2 separate regions of the Homo sapiens genome follow, and region 2 is linked to region 1. Evidence: fine-mapped expression QTL. Tissue or cell type: whole blood. Region 1 holds a variant in brackets; the other region holds the start of a gene. All regions are shown on one strand. Distances are from middle to middle.

Evidence for each region. PIP is the estimated chance that this variant, and not a neighbour inherited with it, causes the effect.
Region 2: it holds the start of KRT23, and the variant in region 1 is fine-mapped to the expression of KRT23 in whole blood (TOPMed, PIP above 0.99).

Annotation. Positions count from the first base shown.
Region 1 is chr17:40,984,447-40,992,554 of GRCh38, forward strand. It overlaps a transcript of KRT40 not described here. Among named protein-coding and RNA genes, the nearest start is that of KRT40, 4.2 kb to the left of the region's middle. The variant T/C (reference allele first, on the strand shown) is at 3,401.
Region 2 is chr17:40,933,866-40,941,977 of GRCh38, forward strand. KRT23 (keratin 23) reads right to left here and starts at 3,781. Exons shown (of 9, transcript NM_015515.5): 1 at 3,481-3,781; 2 at 2,343-3,088. The coding sequence starts at 2,738. The region is part of intron 1 of LOC107985072 (a long non-coding RNA gene); the gene reads left to right.

The sequences.
Region 1 (8,108 bases):
TTATTTACTGAGGAAGAGTTTTATGCCTCATAAAATAGGGATAACTTTAGGTTACCAAAGCAGGACCCACACCATTTCCATGTGCAAGACAAAACACTTATTTCAGAAAATCGTCATAGGAAGCATTGTGCTTTTGACAGAATAATAAAAGAAAGAGAAAATTTGGCCAATGAATAATTATAGATACAACTCATTACAAATCAGGAAAATAATATGTCCACAGATTTTGATTCTGTGGATTGATTGCTTGTGTCCCCTTTTAAAATTAGTATTACAGCTCACAAAATGACAATTATTTGTTTGTGCCACCACCATAAAAATGGTCAGTGTGATTAGTAATCTTTCAATGCTTTTTGTGATCTCAGAGCATGTGCTGATAAAGACTGGAGGAGTGAGCTATATATTGGGTTTAAAGTGTGTGTGTGTGTGCAAACCATGTCTACCTGCGTACAAATGGAAAAGTCACTTTACATAACTGATAGGAATAACTTGTTTTTCTGCAGGCTAAAATATAAATTGGTTAGAGCTGGAATTATGATCTTTGATTTCCTGAAACTTGCCTTCTCCACATTTCTCATTGCTTATTGTTAGATAAGTTATACTATTTTACCTGTATTCCTAATAAGAGTGAAATATAAATTCTAAGTTATAACCTTTTAGTCCCTTGGGAATTCCTTAATGATTATACTTCAGAGTAGGGGCAAGGAACCCACAGGAATCTTTTCTTCTGAGATGTAGAGCCTGTTTTCTCCTATTTATTTATTTATGAAGGCCTGAATTTCATGAAAATTGAAAATACTGGAACTTGGAAAATAAAATTCTATTTAGGTTCCAAATCAGTAATTCCACTGGATGAAATCTCTGGTGCCAAATCTGACAGACAGGAACTTGAGATACGTAATTTTTTTGAATTATCTCTTGGATTTCACCTCCATTGTGAAGGATAATCTATTTCACTTTGCTTGGTTTTAGTCGTTACATTTATTTCATTTTCAAAGGTGCATAGAGAAAATTGTCTCTAGAATTTTTAAGAACATTATAGGAAAAAAACAGATTAATCTGAAAAAGTTAAAAAATTTTTGATCCAGAATAAACTTATTTTTTCTCCTAATCTTGAGTGCTACTTCCTAGGTACCTGATAGTAGAAACCAAACCAAACCAAACCAGAAGAACATATGTAAGTGAGTTAAAATAGTCTCTTAGGATTTATTACTCCCTGGGCAGAGCTGGGTTTGAATTTAGTGATTCTCTTTACACATCAACACTTATGCAAAAAGTTCTTAGAGTGTCTCATGGTATATTGACGCTGCTCTGCAACAAATATGAGTTCAAGGATTCAAAAACACTTCTGAAAAATTACAAATCTCTGAAAGAAAATTATCTTTTCACAGTAACCTAATGAGTCAAAAGAAAAATATCTGTGAAGAAAACCCATGTTTTGGTTGTCCATCACAGGCTCCAGTTAGCTAAAATGCAGTCATGTAAGTGCAGGTAAAATAAGAAATATTTCCTTCTGTCTGGAACTAATTTCTAATTGTAAATTATTTGTTACTGGTTATTGTCCTGCAGGTAGGACTATTTATTTTGGTCTTGATTAATTAGGTAGTGTTGTATAATGATCTATAGCTATAGTCTCCATCGTAGAATATAGAAATCACCCAGAATTCATTTCTGTGGAGTCCTCCTTAGGGAAAAGAAGTCAGGCTGGCAGGACCAGAGGAAAGCAAGTTAGTGGGTGCAGCGCACCAGTATGGCACATGTATACATATATAACTAACCTGCACAATGTGATAAATAAATAAAAAAAACCAAAAAACAAAAAACAAAGAAAGAAAGCAGGTAATGTATAAGACTCACCTTCTTCATGGTCCAGGACACATAGCCCTCCTGCACAATATTCCTGCACCCAGCTATCACCAGACCTTCAGCTGATAGAAAAATGTAACTTAGCTCACTGCAACCTTAGTGTTATCAGTACCACACAAACCCTCTTCAGCACACAGTACAAGCACCATCCTGTAAAATCTCCAGCACGCCTTTGTCTCCTTGCAGACAGCCCCTTCTCTGCTGTGCTGCCCATTGCTTCCTTGCAACGTATTTTCATACGTTCTCTAATATATCTGCCTTTCTTTACCTACAACTATCTTGATAAATTCTTCTTACCCCCATGCCACCAGCCCCAGATAGTTGCTAATCACCCGTGACAATTTCTATAGCATATCATCACCAGAAGAAAGGAACATTGGGAATAGAGAAAAAGAAATAGACATCATGAAAGGCCATGATAAAAAAAAAAACCGACAACAACACGGTAGTTTATTTTGCATAATACTATGCTCTTACCTTACAACATCCACCTAGGCTGCCAGAATCATTTTCCTAAAATACAAACCTGCTTTTTGTCGCCTTCCACTTATGGAATGCAAACTTTCTACCTTGGCAAATATGACCTTCCCTAACCTGGTGCCAATTTACCTTTCTGGGCTCACTTCCTGATGTTCTGTCTCACAAACCCTAAGCTCCAGCCATCCTTCAAGCTTCGTAGGTACTATTTTCTTGGTCAAATGCTCTTCTGCTATTCGTTTCCTGGATGAACTCACATGTCAAGACTCAGCTGAAACGTCGTTCAACTGCCTCATGTGGAGATGTGGCTCCTCCCAGAGCACTTTGCACGCATCTCTGCTATAGCAGTTGTCTTGTTGCTTTTAACATTTGTGCGACAGGTTATAAGAGTTTACATGAGGCCTTAAGAAATTTGGCTCAGGGCCAGAGCTAGTATCCACGTGCAGCAACTTGGTTGATTTTCACTGTTTTGGGCAACAACCTAAATAACTTTTAACAGTGCCTGGGAATGTTCAAGGGTCAGCTCGGGTTCAAGCTGCAGGGGAAACACACAGCTGGCTGGGCCACAGGGTGGTCAAGGTAATCTGTTTCCCAAGGCAAAGAAGGAAGTGGAGGGATGATCTGGGTGACCCTACAACATGATCAATCATATTGAATAACTTGGTCACTCTACATTATCCTTTATGTAAATTGTTTTATTCAGTTAGTTGATAGGATTAGCAAATGGATTTCCACCCCCATCTATGTTCTTGAGAAATATTTCCTGTAAATTTCTTTTCTTCTAATGATCTTGTTAGGTTTTGGTATCAAGTTACATACTGGGTTCACAATATGACTTAGCTCTGCGTCCCCACCCAAACTTCATCTCAAATTATAAACCCCAAATCCCCACGTGTTAGGGGAGGGACCTGGATGATTGGATCATGGGGGCAGTTTCCCGTATACTGTTCTTGTGATAGTGAGTTCGTTCTCAGGAAATCTAATGGTTTTGTAAGTGTGTGACAGTTCCTCCTTCCCACGCTCTCTCTCACCTGCCCCCATGTAAGAAGTGCCTGCT[T/C]CCCCTTCCACCATTATTGTAAGTTTCCTGAGGCCTCCCCAGCCATGTGGAACTGGGACTCAATTACACCTCCTTCCTTTATAAATTATCCAGTCTCAGATATTTCTTTATAACAGTGTGAGAATGGAGTAATACTGTTCATAAATTAAATTGGGAAATGTTTCCTCTTTATTTCATGAAATTCTGTAAGATTAGTGTTATTTATTCCTTAAATGTTTGATGGAGTCCAGTGAGGCCACCTCTTCCAGGAGTCTCCCATGTGAAAAAGTTGTGTTTTGTTTTTAACTAGGAAAAAAAATGTCTGGGCGCGGTGGCTCAAGCCTGTAATCCCAGCACTTTGGGAGGCCCAGGCAGGCAGATCACTTAAGGGCAGGAGGTTGAGACCAGCCTGGCTAATATGCTGAAGGCTTGTCTCTACTAAAAATACAAAAATTAGTTGGGCATAGTGGCGAACACCTGTAGTCCTAGCTTTTCGGGAGGCTGAGGCATGAGAATTGCTGAAACCTGGAAGGCAGATGTTGCGGTGAGCCGAGATCACACCATTGCACTCCAGCTTGGGTGAGAGTGAGACTCCATTTCAAACACACACACACACACACACACACACACACACACACACACACACATGCACACACACACGCAAATATATGTATATTTGCTGACCTCTACATCAAATTGCTTACCTCTACTTATAGAAACCTCACAATGCTATTCAGTTGTTCTATTTCATTTTGTGTGAAAGTTGCATTTTTCAAGGAGTTTGTTCACTTCACCTAAGTTGCAAAAATACTGAAATAAAGTTGTTCATAATAATCCTTATCATGAATTTTAGTATCTGCAGTGTCTATAAATTCTCACTATTTAATTCCAGATATTGGTAATTTGTGTTTTATCTCATGCTTCCCCCATCAATCTGGCTTGATGTTCATCAGATTAATACTAATGTATTGTTTATTTCAAGGTTGCTGAAAGAGTAGATTTTTGATGTTCTCACCATAAAACAATGATCAGGTGCTTAGGTGATGGATATGTTACTTAGCTTGATTTATCTTTCCACAATGCATACATAAATCAAAACACCACATTGTACCCCACAAATATACATATACACAATTATTATTTGCCAACTAAAAAATAACTAAATAGAAGTACTTTATGAATCCTTTCAAAGAATCAAATTTTAGCTTCATTAATTTCCTCGTTTTCTATTCATTGATTTCTGATATTATGTTTATTATTTATTTCTTTCTCCTTACTTTGAATTTTAATTGTTCTTTTTCTATTTAGTTGAAATGAAAACTTAAGTGATTGATGAAGAGATAAATGAAGGTGATAAAGATGTAAATCTTATTTTCTAATATAATCATTTGCTGTATATTTTCTACTAATCCAATGCTGTATGTATCCCATAAATTTTTAAAATCTTTTGTTTTCATTATCATTCAGCTCATAATATTTCTTAAGCTGTATTGGTATTTATTATTTGATCCATAGGTTATTAGAACTGTGTTGTTTGATTTTCAAATATTTGGTGATTTTTCTAAGTATCTGATTGATTTCTCATTTAATTCCATTGTGGTCAGATAACATATTTTGTTAGATTTTGGAATTTATGGAGACAAATTTAATGGCCCAGAATATAGTCTATTTTGGTGAGAGTTCCTTATGCATTTGAAAAGAATGTATATTCTGCAATTGTAGGGGGTAACATTCTGTAAATGTAACTGAGTAAAATTGTTTGATACTATTATTCAAATCTTCTTTCTCCTTGGTAATTTTCTTATCTGTTTGTTCTCTCAGATCCTGACAGGGGATATTAAAATCACCAAATGTGATTTTGGATTCATCTATTTCTCTCTTGACTTCTGTGATTTTTTGCCTTATTTATTTTGAAGCTCTGTTATTGGGTCATATTTTTAAGGATTATAGGACCACCTGATGAATTTTCCCTTTTTCATTATGAAATATCACCTTAAAATTATCTAATATTTAAGTGACCAAACTTCTTTCTTATCATTACTATTTGCGTGGTATGTCTTTTTTTCAGACTACATAATTCAATTTTCTTGTGCTTTTATATTTAAAGTGAATCACTTTAAAACAGCATAGTGCTGGGTTTTCTTTTTAAATCCAATCTGACATCCTCTGACTTTTTATTGGAGTGCTTACTTTATATTTAATGTAATTATTGATATGGTTGGTTTAAAATCTACCATCTTGCTATTTGTTTTTTATTTCCATGTGTTTTTTGCTTCCTTTCCCTTTTATTTCTCATCTTATTTTGGGCCAATCAAACATTCTACTTTATTTTCTATACTAGCTTTATAAGTATATATCTTTTAATGGTTTTTCTAAAGGGTGGGGTAGTTCTCTCAGGATTATGATATGCATCTTTACATTTTTGTACTCCACTTGGAATTAATACTGTAGCACTTTATGTAAAATACGAGAACCTTACCACAGTAGGGTTCTTTTTGCCCCTTTCTGTTCTTTGTGCTATTATTGTCAAATTGCTTACTTCTACATATAGAAACCCTACAATGCCATTGCTTTTGCTTTAAATCATTGTCTTTTAGAATATCGAGAAAAGGAAAAAGAGAAAGTCTCATATTTTATCCATGTATTTACCATTTTCAGTGTTTTTTTCCTTCCTGAAGGTCTGAGACTTCATTTTGTATAATTACTCTTAAAATTTTTTTATTGTGGCAAAATACAAGTAACATAAAATTTACTATTTTAACTATTTTTAAGTGTACAATCCAGTGGTATTAAGTACATTCAAATGTTGTGTGGGCATCACCACCGTCCTTCTCCATAACTCTTTTCACCTTTTAAAACTGAAACTCTGTTCCCTTTAAACAACTGCCCATGAAGCCCGCCCTTGTGTCCTGGCAACCATTGTTCTGCTTTTCATCTCTATGATTTTTTTACTACTTTTAACTACCTCATATAAGTGAAAGCATATAAGTGAATAGTATCTTTTTGTGCTGGCTTACTTCACTTAGCACAACATCTTCAAGGTTAATTCATGTTGTGGCATGTGTCAGAAAGTCCTTCCCTTTTAGGGCTGAATAATATTCCATTGTATGGATGTACCATATTTTGATTATCCATCCGTCTATCAATGAGCACTTGTTTGTTTTCATATTTTAGCTATTGCAATTATTGCTGCTATGAACGCAAGTATACAAATGTCTTTTAGCGACCCTGCTTTCAATTCTTTTGGGTATATACCCAGAAGTGGAAGCGCAAGATCATAAGGCAATTCTACATTTAATTTTTTGAGGAAGTGCTATATTGTTTTTCACAGTCACTGTACAATTTTACCTTCCTACCAGCAATGCTTGAGGGTTCCAATTTCTCTCTCTCTCTCTCTCTATATATATATAATGTATATATTATATATTTTACATATATATGTGTGTATATATATATAAGGGGTTTTGTTTTGTTTTTTGTTTTTTGAGACGGAATCTTGCTCTGTCACCCAGGCTGTAGTGCAGTGGTGCCATCTTGGCCCAGTGCAGCCTCTGCCTCCTGGGTTCAAGTGATTCTCTTGCTTCAGCCTCCCAAGTAGCTGGGATTACAGGAGCCCACCACCACGCCCAGCTAATTTTTGTATTTTTAGTAGAGACGGGATTTCACCATGTTGGCTGGGCTGGTCTCAAATTCCTGACCTCAAGTGATCCACCTGCCTTGGCCTCCCAAAGTGCTGGGATTATAGGCATAAGCCACCACACCTGGCTGTTTTGTTTTTTGTATTTATTTATTTATTTATTTATTTATTTTATGGCAGCCATCCTAATGGGTGGGAGGTAGTATCTCATTGTAGTTTTGATTTGCACTTTGCTAATGATTAGTGAGTGATGCTGAGTACCTTTGCCTGTGCTGATTGGCTATTTGTATATCTTCTTTGAAGAAAGTCTATTCAAGTTCTCTGTCCATTTCTGAACTGGTTTGTTTGTTTTTTGTCTTTGAGGTAAAATTACTCTTAAACCAAAAGGACTTCCTTATTGTTTCTTATAGTGTAGATCTTCAGGCACTTAAAAAAGAAGTCAGCTTTATTCACCTAAAAGTGTTTTTATTTTTTCTTTAATTTTGAAGGTTGTTTTTGCAGACTGTAGTGTTCACAATTTTTTTTCCTTTAGGACCTTTTAAATGAGGTTTGATTTTCCTCTGACATCCATTTTACCTAAAAAGAAGTCAGACATCCATTTTTTCTTTGCTGCCTTCTATTTGATTTGTTTTTTTTTCTTAATTGGTATTCAGCAGTTTGACTATGATATGTGTAGGTGGTGTGTGTGTGTGTGTGTGTATTGCAATTATCCTGCTAAGTGTTTATTGAGACTCTTGAATATATGGGTTAATAAAATGTCACCAAATTTCGAAAATTTTTGCTTTTATTCCCTCCCAAATTTTTATTTCCTATTCTTTAACTCCTCTCATTCTGAGACTCCAATTTCATCCTCATTTCACCACTTGGTACTTTCCCACAGGCTTCTTAGTTTCTTCAATTTCTTTTTCAATCCTTTTTTCTACCCTGGCTAGGCTGGAACCTCAAAGTCTGTTAATAGTGAATGACCTCTGGTATCTCCACTCAGCTTCTAATCACCCAGCAGCCACTCTTTGCTATGCCTGATGGAATTTCAGCCAGCGTATTTGCAACTGTGCCTTCTGTAAGTACTTGAGAACTTTTACACAGTCTTCT
Region 2 (8,112 bases), 51 kb before region 1:
GCCCTCAGTTCATTCTTTTAAAAGCAAGTTGGCATATTCTTGCAGCATTGTTGCTTCAGGATGTTTGATCTACTAGGGAGAGGAAAACAGAATGTTTGACTGTAAACAAAAATGCCAAATATAGTCCGATTGAGAATCATTCAAGGTGTTTTATTTATGATACTCCTATGACTGTGTCCAATTCTGGATTTCAAAAGGATTGAATTAATTTTTAAGCTCAACTTGTTATCAACCTTTTGAGTGATATTTAATATACCTAAAGTGAGGGTACGGGAGAACTGTATCCACTCAGAGCATTTCACCAAGGTCCAGGAAGGATAAGCCCCAGGTAATTGTGGGACCTCCTTGCACCTCTGTTTTCTCATCTTCAAATGAGGGAGGTTGGGGTAGATAGACAACCTCAACTTTAAAGAGTTTCTTTCTTCAAGTGTAGAGAAAACACAATGTTAGAGGTAAAAATCCAGAAAAGAGTGAAATTCAAAGCCAAAGAAGTTTCCTATTCAATCTCAGAACCCAGAATTCCAGGTCATCTGAAGGGTGGGCAGGTTGCTCCCCACACCCCCCATTGCACCTACTCACTTTTCTCAATTCTGTTCCAAAGGATTTAGACAATGATTAGGTCTCAGTCTCCTTATCTGTAAGTTGAGAATACAAATACCTGCTCCACACAGTTGTGAGGATTAAATGAGACAATGTGTATGAAGTATGTGATGTGTGGTTAATGATGCAAGTATAATGCATTATCTTTATTCATACTAAGTGTCATTTTTATATGAGGTGGGCTAGGCAGCACTACACTGTAGTGAAATTTATGAGGCTACTGGAAACAGACCTGAGTTAGAATCCCACCTCTGCTTCTTGCTGATGGCTTTGGATGGCTATTTCACTTTTTTCCAAGCTTCCATTTCCTTACAGGGTTCTTGCAGAATCAAATAAAATAATATGGAACATTTCCATCATTGCAGAAAACTCTTGGATAGTGTTGACATGTGTATTAAATATCCAGCAGGATGCCTAGGTACATAATAAGTGCTCAGTAAACATTTCCCTCTCTTTCCTCCCTTTCTTTTTTTTAAATCTCTTCCGCGAGCTCATAAATTATTTGACTGGTTCTAACCTTGTATTTCTTTTGGGAGTCATGGTCTCCCTTTGCTCTCCATTTGCAAAAATCTTCAATTCCTCCTTTCTACAACCAAAGCAACTTTATTAAACAAAAAAACATGATGAGGACTGTTGAGTCACCTTGTTTTTTTTTTTTTTTCATAAAGACAACCATGCACTATATAGTTAAGGTAATTACAGTCAGTTATTAGGTTGATTATTCAATAATTAGGGTTCATTACAAGGACAGATTTATATTATCTTGACTGGTCCTTCCTACATTCAAGCAAGGATGACTGAGCATTGTGAAATAATATATATAAATATTGGAAACTTGTGATACCCTTTCTAGGGGAGGTTAAATCATGGTCTTACAGGGAATTTTCTGGGACTGCTTTATATAAGAGGGGAGTTAGATAGCTTTAAAACATAACCTATGAGATGATTGGATTCCTTCTACTTCTAGCTAATGTTATGAGACATCCCAGAAGGTATTTGCTTAGCTTTTTTGAGGTTTGGTTAAAGAGTTCGGTTTTTTTTGAACAAGGTCTTTATAGCCATCTCAACTCTCAGATTCTAAAAATTATGCTCATTTTATTATTATTGGTTCTAGCAATATGCCATTGTCAGAACTGTGAGCAACTTTACTGCAAGCAACCCACAAACGGAAATATCTAGGGATGTCATGATGACCTATATGCTGGTGTGGTGACAACTTTTAGGCATAATCTTCAAAATAGTGTAACAGCCTTTTGTCGATGGATAACCACATTGTTCAAAAAAGTTTGAGGTGGAGCAGAACTGAGGTAATGAGAAAGTAAACACTCTCTTATGCCTGGTGCACTGAGCATGCAGCATGAACACCAGCCCTTATCATTTCTATGACATCGTTGGGTCATAAGTGACATTAAACAGCAGCTGGTTGCCTCACATTTTAAAGATGTTTTTGGTCTGTGAGAAATCAGTAGTCTCATTTTTGAAACAGTCTGTAGCACTTCTATCATTTTTGCTGCCTTCTTTTTCTACATTATCCATGGACAGTAGACTAATTAAACAAAACAGACGTTTCCCACTCCAAATTTAAGATATAATAAGAAAACATCCCCCAAAACCTTTGTGCACAATTACTTCAAGCGCTGATGCCATTTTCCTGGAAATTGTCTTCTGGACTCATTTTTCCTCCCGAGGGTCCCCTGGCAAAGCAGCCCCATCTGGATCTCCAGGGTCACCCAGCATCTTACCTGCTCCTGCAGGTGTGTGATGTTTTCCTCATACTGGGAATAATCTTTCTTACTGCCAGGATCTCTCTGCTGGTGCCATTTCAGGATGCGGCTTTCCAGCTTCATGTTGGCCTCCTCCAGGGCGCGAACCTTCTCCAGGTAGGAGGCCAGGCGGTCGTTGAGATTCTGCATGGTGGCCTTCCCATTTCCGCCTAGTAGGGGGCTGCTTCTTCCAGAACCCCAAGACCCTCCAGGGGGTGGGCAGCTCCGCGTGGTGAAGGACAGGGAGATGCGGGCTCCCCCCGCACCGCCATGGACGGTGGGAGCCCTGGGGAAGCTCCTGGGCCGGCCCCAGCCACCTCCGGCGCCATGGAAGGAGGCCGAGGGGGTCTGGCTGAAGCTGTGTCCGGAGTTCATGGTCCCATCTGTGTTTGGGACGGGGCTGAGCTCTGCTCCACTCCCTGGCACCGCAGAACTGAGCCGCCCCAGACTGCCCTGGATGGTTTTATGGCCTTTGCTGTGGGAGTTCCCTTCTCTGACAATTGTACCAACAAGATTGTATCATTGTGCAACTTGTGTTTCCTCTTGGTCAATCCCAAAGTGCCCCTGGGCCTTCGCACACTGTTGTTGTTTAGAGCCACATCAATATGACAGTTTGCTTCCTCCCTTCCCCTGGTAACCCGGAGGTGTGGCCCACGACATCAGGCGGGTATTGGGCTCAGGTATCTTTCTAATCTTGCCGTGAAGTTTTTCCATTGTTCATTTACCTGGAATGGGTTAGGTTAAAGTCCACCCAAAAGAAAGCATATTCGATGTAGTATAGATTTCCTTAAAAAAAACCAAAAACCAAAACCAAAACAAAACAACAACAACAGCAACAAAAAACCAGACATTAAACAACAGAGATACACACACCTTTTTCCACCCCCAATAAGCCCCACCTCTAAAGGGAGGGTGAGCGAGCCTGGAGAAGGGAAAGCCAGCTCAGAACAGGATCTCAGGTCCCAGAATAAAGCTTGCTGTGCTGAGGCAGCCGAGAAGGTGGTGAATATCTGATGCCTTTGTGGCAGTCACTGTTTGAAGGAAAGTACTTTCAAAGGACTCGCTCTTAAGAACAAACCCTCAATTATAGATGTAATTAATTAATGAATGACCGAACCTTCCACTTCCAGGGTGCCTTTCATCCCAGCACACCTCAAAACCAAACAACCCTGGCCTGCGCTCAGGATTTCCCTTGGCCCTGGGGGAGGAATGTAGCCGTTGTTAGCAGCCCCGGACCCCGGCTGAGCCTGCCACGGCTGGGCTCTGTGTGTCTGTGACCTGCAGAGGGACGATGGAAAACAGGAAACCTGCCATGGGCTGTCAAATGTGGTTGATGAATCTTATATTTCATCTGCCAAGGTAAAGGTTAGGAATGAATAAAGAAGCAGTCTGGGGGCGGGAGCCACGTGCTAGTTACTGGCAGTTGGATTTAAAGGGGACTTACAAATAAAATATCAGCGCAGGAAGGGCTTCTGGCCTTTCTGGTTCCAAGCCACTAATTGGACAGATGAGGAAAGCTGAGGCCTATGGTGGTGGGGAGGTTAGTGGCAGAGCCAGGGCTAGATTCTTTCTCCACATAGCACTGTTATCTTGGGTTGAATCTTGACAGGTCCTGTACCACACTTCTCTTTCATAATAATAGGACTTGCCAATTGGTGTAGCTCTTTTATATTCTTTATTGAATCCTCACAACTCTTTATGTATCCAGGCAAGGGTTGTTGTCTTCATTTTGCAGACAAAGAATCAGGGTCTCATAGGGATGAATGATCCAGAGCTGATTCGCATGTACAGTGTAATTGAGCACATGAATTCATAGGTGACACTGCCCGAGTCTGTGCTGTCCTCCCTGCCTGGAAAGTCACTCACCCCTACCTCTTCTATAGTTCAAGGGCTACCTCCTTCAACAATCATTTTCTGAATTCTCCTGCATGAGTTGGGTGACCCTCTAGGAGGAAACTGCCTCTTCTGGATGCCGAGGTCCTCCAGAGGGGCAGACACCTTGGCATCCCACCTCATGGTGGAAGCTGGGAGCCCCTAGCCAGGCGCAGCCACCTCCTGTGCCTGGGATGAAGTCCACTCCGTTCTTTCACTCCATTATACTGCATTTGCCACACCCTTCTGAGACCGCAGGCTTCTTGAAAGCAGAGTTTATGTCTTCCATTTTTGAGCACCAAAGTCTGGTTTCTTGGTGGTATTTTGCAAATGTATGTTGACTCAATCATAAACTTTTTAGAGTCAGGATTTTAACACAGGTCTCCTGATGCCATCAACTTCTGCTCCTTTTAGGACTGTGAGTTATAGAACTAGAAAGTAGGAAAACGCCTCTCCTGGGTATAGATTAACCATCCATGAAGGCCAATCTTTTCCAATTACAAATAAAGCCACCCAAAAGCACACCAGCTCTGCTCCTCCCAGTCTTACAACAAAACCTTATCAGGGAAGAGTCTCTGAATATTTTTTATTTCACTGTGCACGAGCTGGAAAAATGAGCCTCCAAGCCTCAGGGAAGCTTGGAGAGTGCTTAGAAAGAGTGCCGACAGTCACTTACATCTCAGATATGAGAAAAAGACAAAAGAGACAAGTGATAAAAATAGAGCAAATGAGGGAACTAGAGAGACTTGTTTGGCGAGTGGTGGCAACCAGTGTTCTGTGGATGTGGACGGTTCCTGGTCATCAAAGTTATGGTCAGCTCTGGTTCCTGTTCGCCTGGACCCAGACTTACCAAGGAAGAAAACATTTACCTTTAGCATGTGCAAGGGCCGGGCTGCACTGCCTTTTTCTAAATTCTCTCACCAGAATCTACAATGAAATTAATGCTTCTCTAATTATTTCAGGCATGTCTGAGTGGCAGTGACTTATCAACCCCATAGATTTGGCCACTGTCTCATTTTATGTCCATGTGTGGGAGTTTTGATTTATAGGACTTATCCTTGAGCAAAAGATTTCTTGTGTCATAGCAGGACCAGGGCCAGGAAAAACTGGTGGTGAGATCTGAGAGCACTGGGGAGAAATAGTCTCTTCTAGTACTGTTATATGATGGTTTCCCATAACTTCTTTTTTTTTTTTTCTCAAGATGGAGTTTTGCTCTGTCACCCAGGCTGGAGTGCAATGGCGCAATCTTGACTCACTGCAACCTCCGCCTCCTGGGTTCAAGCGATTCTCCTGCCTCAGCCTCCCGAGTAGCTAGGATTACAGGTGCGCACCACCATGCCCAGCTAATTTTTTGTATTTTTAGTAGAGACGGGGTTTCACCATGTTGGCCAGGCTGGTCTTGAACTCCTGACCTCATGATCTGCCTGCCTTGGCCTCCCAAAGTGCTGGGATTACAGGCATGAGCCACCCTGCCCAGCCAATTTTCCATAACTTCTTTTTTTTTTTTTTGAGACAGAGTCTCGCCCTGTCGCCCAGGCTGGAGTGCAGTGATGTGATCGTGGCTCACTGCAACCTCCACCTCCCGGGTTCAAGCGATTCTTCTGCCTCAGCCTCCCGAGTAGCCGGGACCACAGGTGCGTGCCACCACGCCCGGCTAATCTTTGTAGTTTTTAGTAGAGACGGGGTTTTACCATGTTGGCCAGGCAGATCTTGAACTTCTGACTTTGTGATCCACCCACCTCGGCCTCCCAAAGTGCTGGGATTATAGGCATGAGCCACCGCACCCGGCCCTGGTTTTCCATAACTTCTAATGTGTAGAGTTCCATTGGATTTTAAAAGAAATGATGCTTTTTTAAAAGCATCATTTTAAAAGCATTAAAAGAAATGATACATGCTTATTATACAAAATCAAGTGATACATGATGGTACAGGAAAAAATATTTAAAAATTCTACCACACACACACAACGTTTGGTGACATTTGGTGAACATCCTTTCAGATACTATGTGTATGTATTGGAAGACAAAAGAATGGCTAGAATAATTGGAAAAATGGGCTCCTGCGACTTATTCCATTTTAGAAAAACTTAAGTCAATTAACACATTTTAATTGGCAAATAAGGAACTAAAATGAATTCACTTTAGTGACATAGTTTTTCTAGAATTTAAAAACGTTCATCACATTCTTTTAAATTTTACATTTTTAAGAAGGATAAAATGGCCTGTAAATGCCAGGATTTTTGGAATCGCAGGACTGGAAAGAAAAGCAACGCTGAGCCACTTGTTGCAGATTTTTGCTTTTAGGGAGGACAACGGCAGAGTGCTGAGCTTGTTTTTGAAGTATTCTTAAAGAACGCGAGGGATGAAGCCTCCAACTGCTTCCTCAGTAAATGGCCAACATTTACTGATCCTTTTGGTTCACAAGCATTTCACTTGCAATATGGTTTCAGGATTTCTTTTGGTATTTCTGTAGAGTGCAAATTGTTCAGAATCAAAATCATTCTGCTTTGCATGATTTTCTGGCTGAAACATTTGTAGTTTTCACATTTGATTCATCTTTCTGATGAACTCAGTTGTCGTCTTGAAAGGGAGTGGGTACTTTGTAAGACAGCTCAGCTGTTGAGTGAATGCATGGGGTTGCATGTGGGTGTGTTGGGGTCAGAAGGGAGCCCTGTCAGAAGGTAGCTGTCATGAACTGGGTACACCGTCTGTTTGTGTGCCTTTTCAAGACAACCATTCCATTAATGAAGCATTTTATAGGCACCCGTTCTTTATAGTAGAGAAAGATGGCCAAAATGACTCTCAAATACATTTTTACTACACATGATATTTCAGCACAGATGAGTAGTAGGTCTTCAGGCAAAATTGCTATGCTATTATCCTATGAGTTGGAAGGTTACATAAGAAGATTAGACATTTATAGAAATAAAACATGCCCATTAAAAGTGGGCAAAGGACATGAACAGACACTATATACAGATACTATTTGTAAGCGACTCAAGTTGGCTGTTGTTTTCTTCCTCATTTGAAATACTGTATTGAAGACTTCATAACTCACATCATCTCTCTGTTGGCCCCTTTTTCCTGGACAAATAGAAATATGAGAAAACGGTCTGAGGATCATGCTGTAACAAAGTGTTTTATATCAGCTTTACTTGACCACTCATGCTTATGCCCTTGTAGCATCTTATCCATTGGGAAAATGTTCCCAGCTGAAAACAGTCAATTGCAGCTGCAATTTTAAACATGGAATGCAATAGATAGACTTTAAGAAGTTAGTAAAATCTCTAAAACTATATGCAAAAATTTCTCTGCATGCTTATATGCTTGCTTTTCTGAGGAATAGAAGCTTTTATTAACTGTTGTATTTAAAAATTTCAATTAGGCCGGGCTTGGTGGTTCATGCCTGTAATCCCAGCACTTTAGGGAGGCCGAAGCAGGTGGATTGATCACCTAAGGGTATGAGTTCAAGACCAGCTTGGCCAACATGGTGAAATCCCCGTCTCTACCAAAAATACAAAAAATTTGCTGGACATGGTGGCGTGCACCTGTAATCCCAGCTACTCTGGAGGCTGAGGCAGGAGAATTGCTTGAGCCTAGGAGGCAGAGGTTGGAGTGAGCTGAGATCACACCATTGCACTCCAGCCTGGGTGACAAGAGTGAATCTCCATCTCAAAAGAAATTTTTTTAAATTAATTATTATTTGTTGAGACAGGGTCTCACTTTGTTGCCTGAGCTGTGGGCAGTGGTGCAATCATGGTTCACTACAGCCTCAACCTCCTGGCTCAAGTGATCTTCCTGCCTCCACCTCCCCAGTAGCTGGGACTTACAGGCGTGCATCACCACACCAGGCAAATTCTTTTTTTAATGTTTTGTAG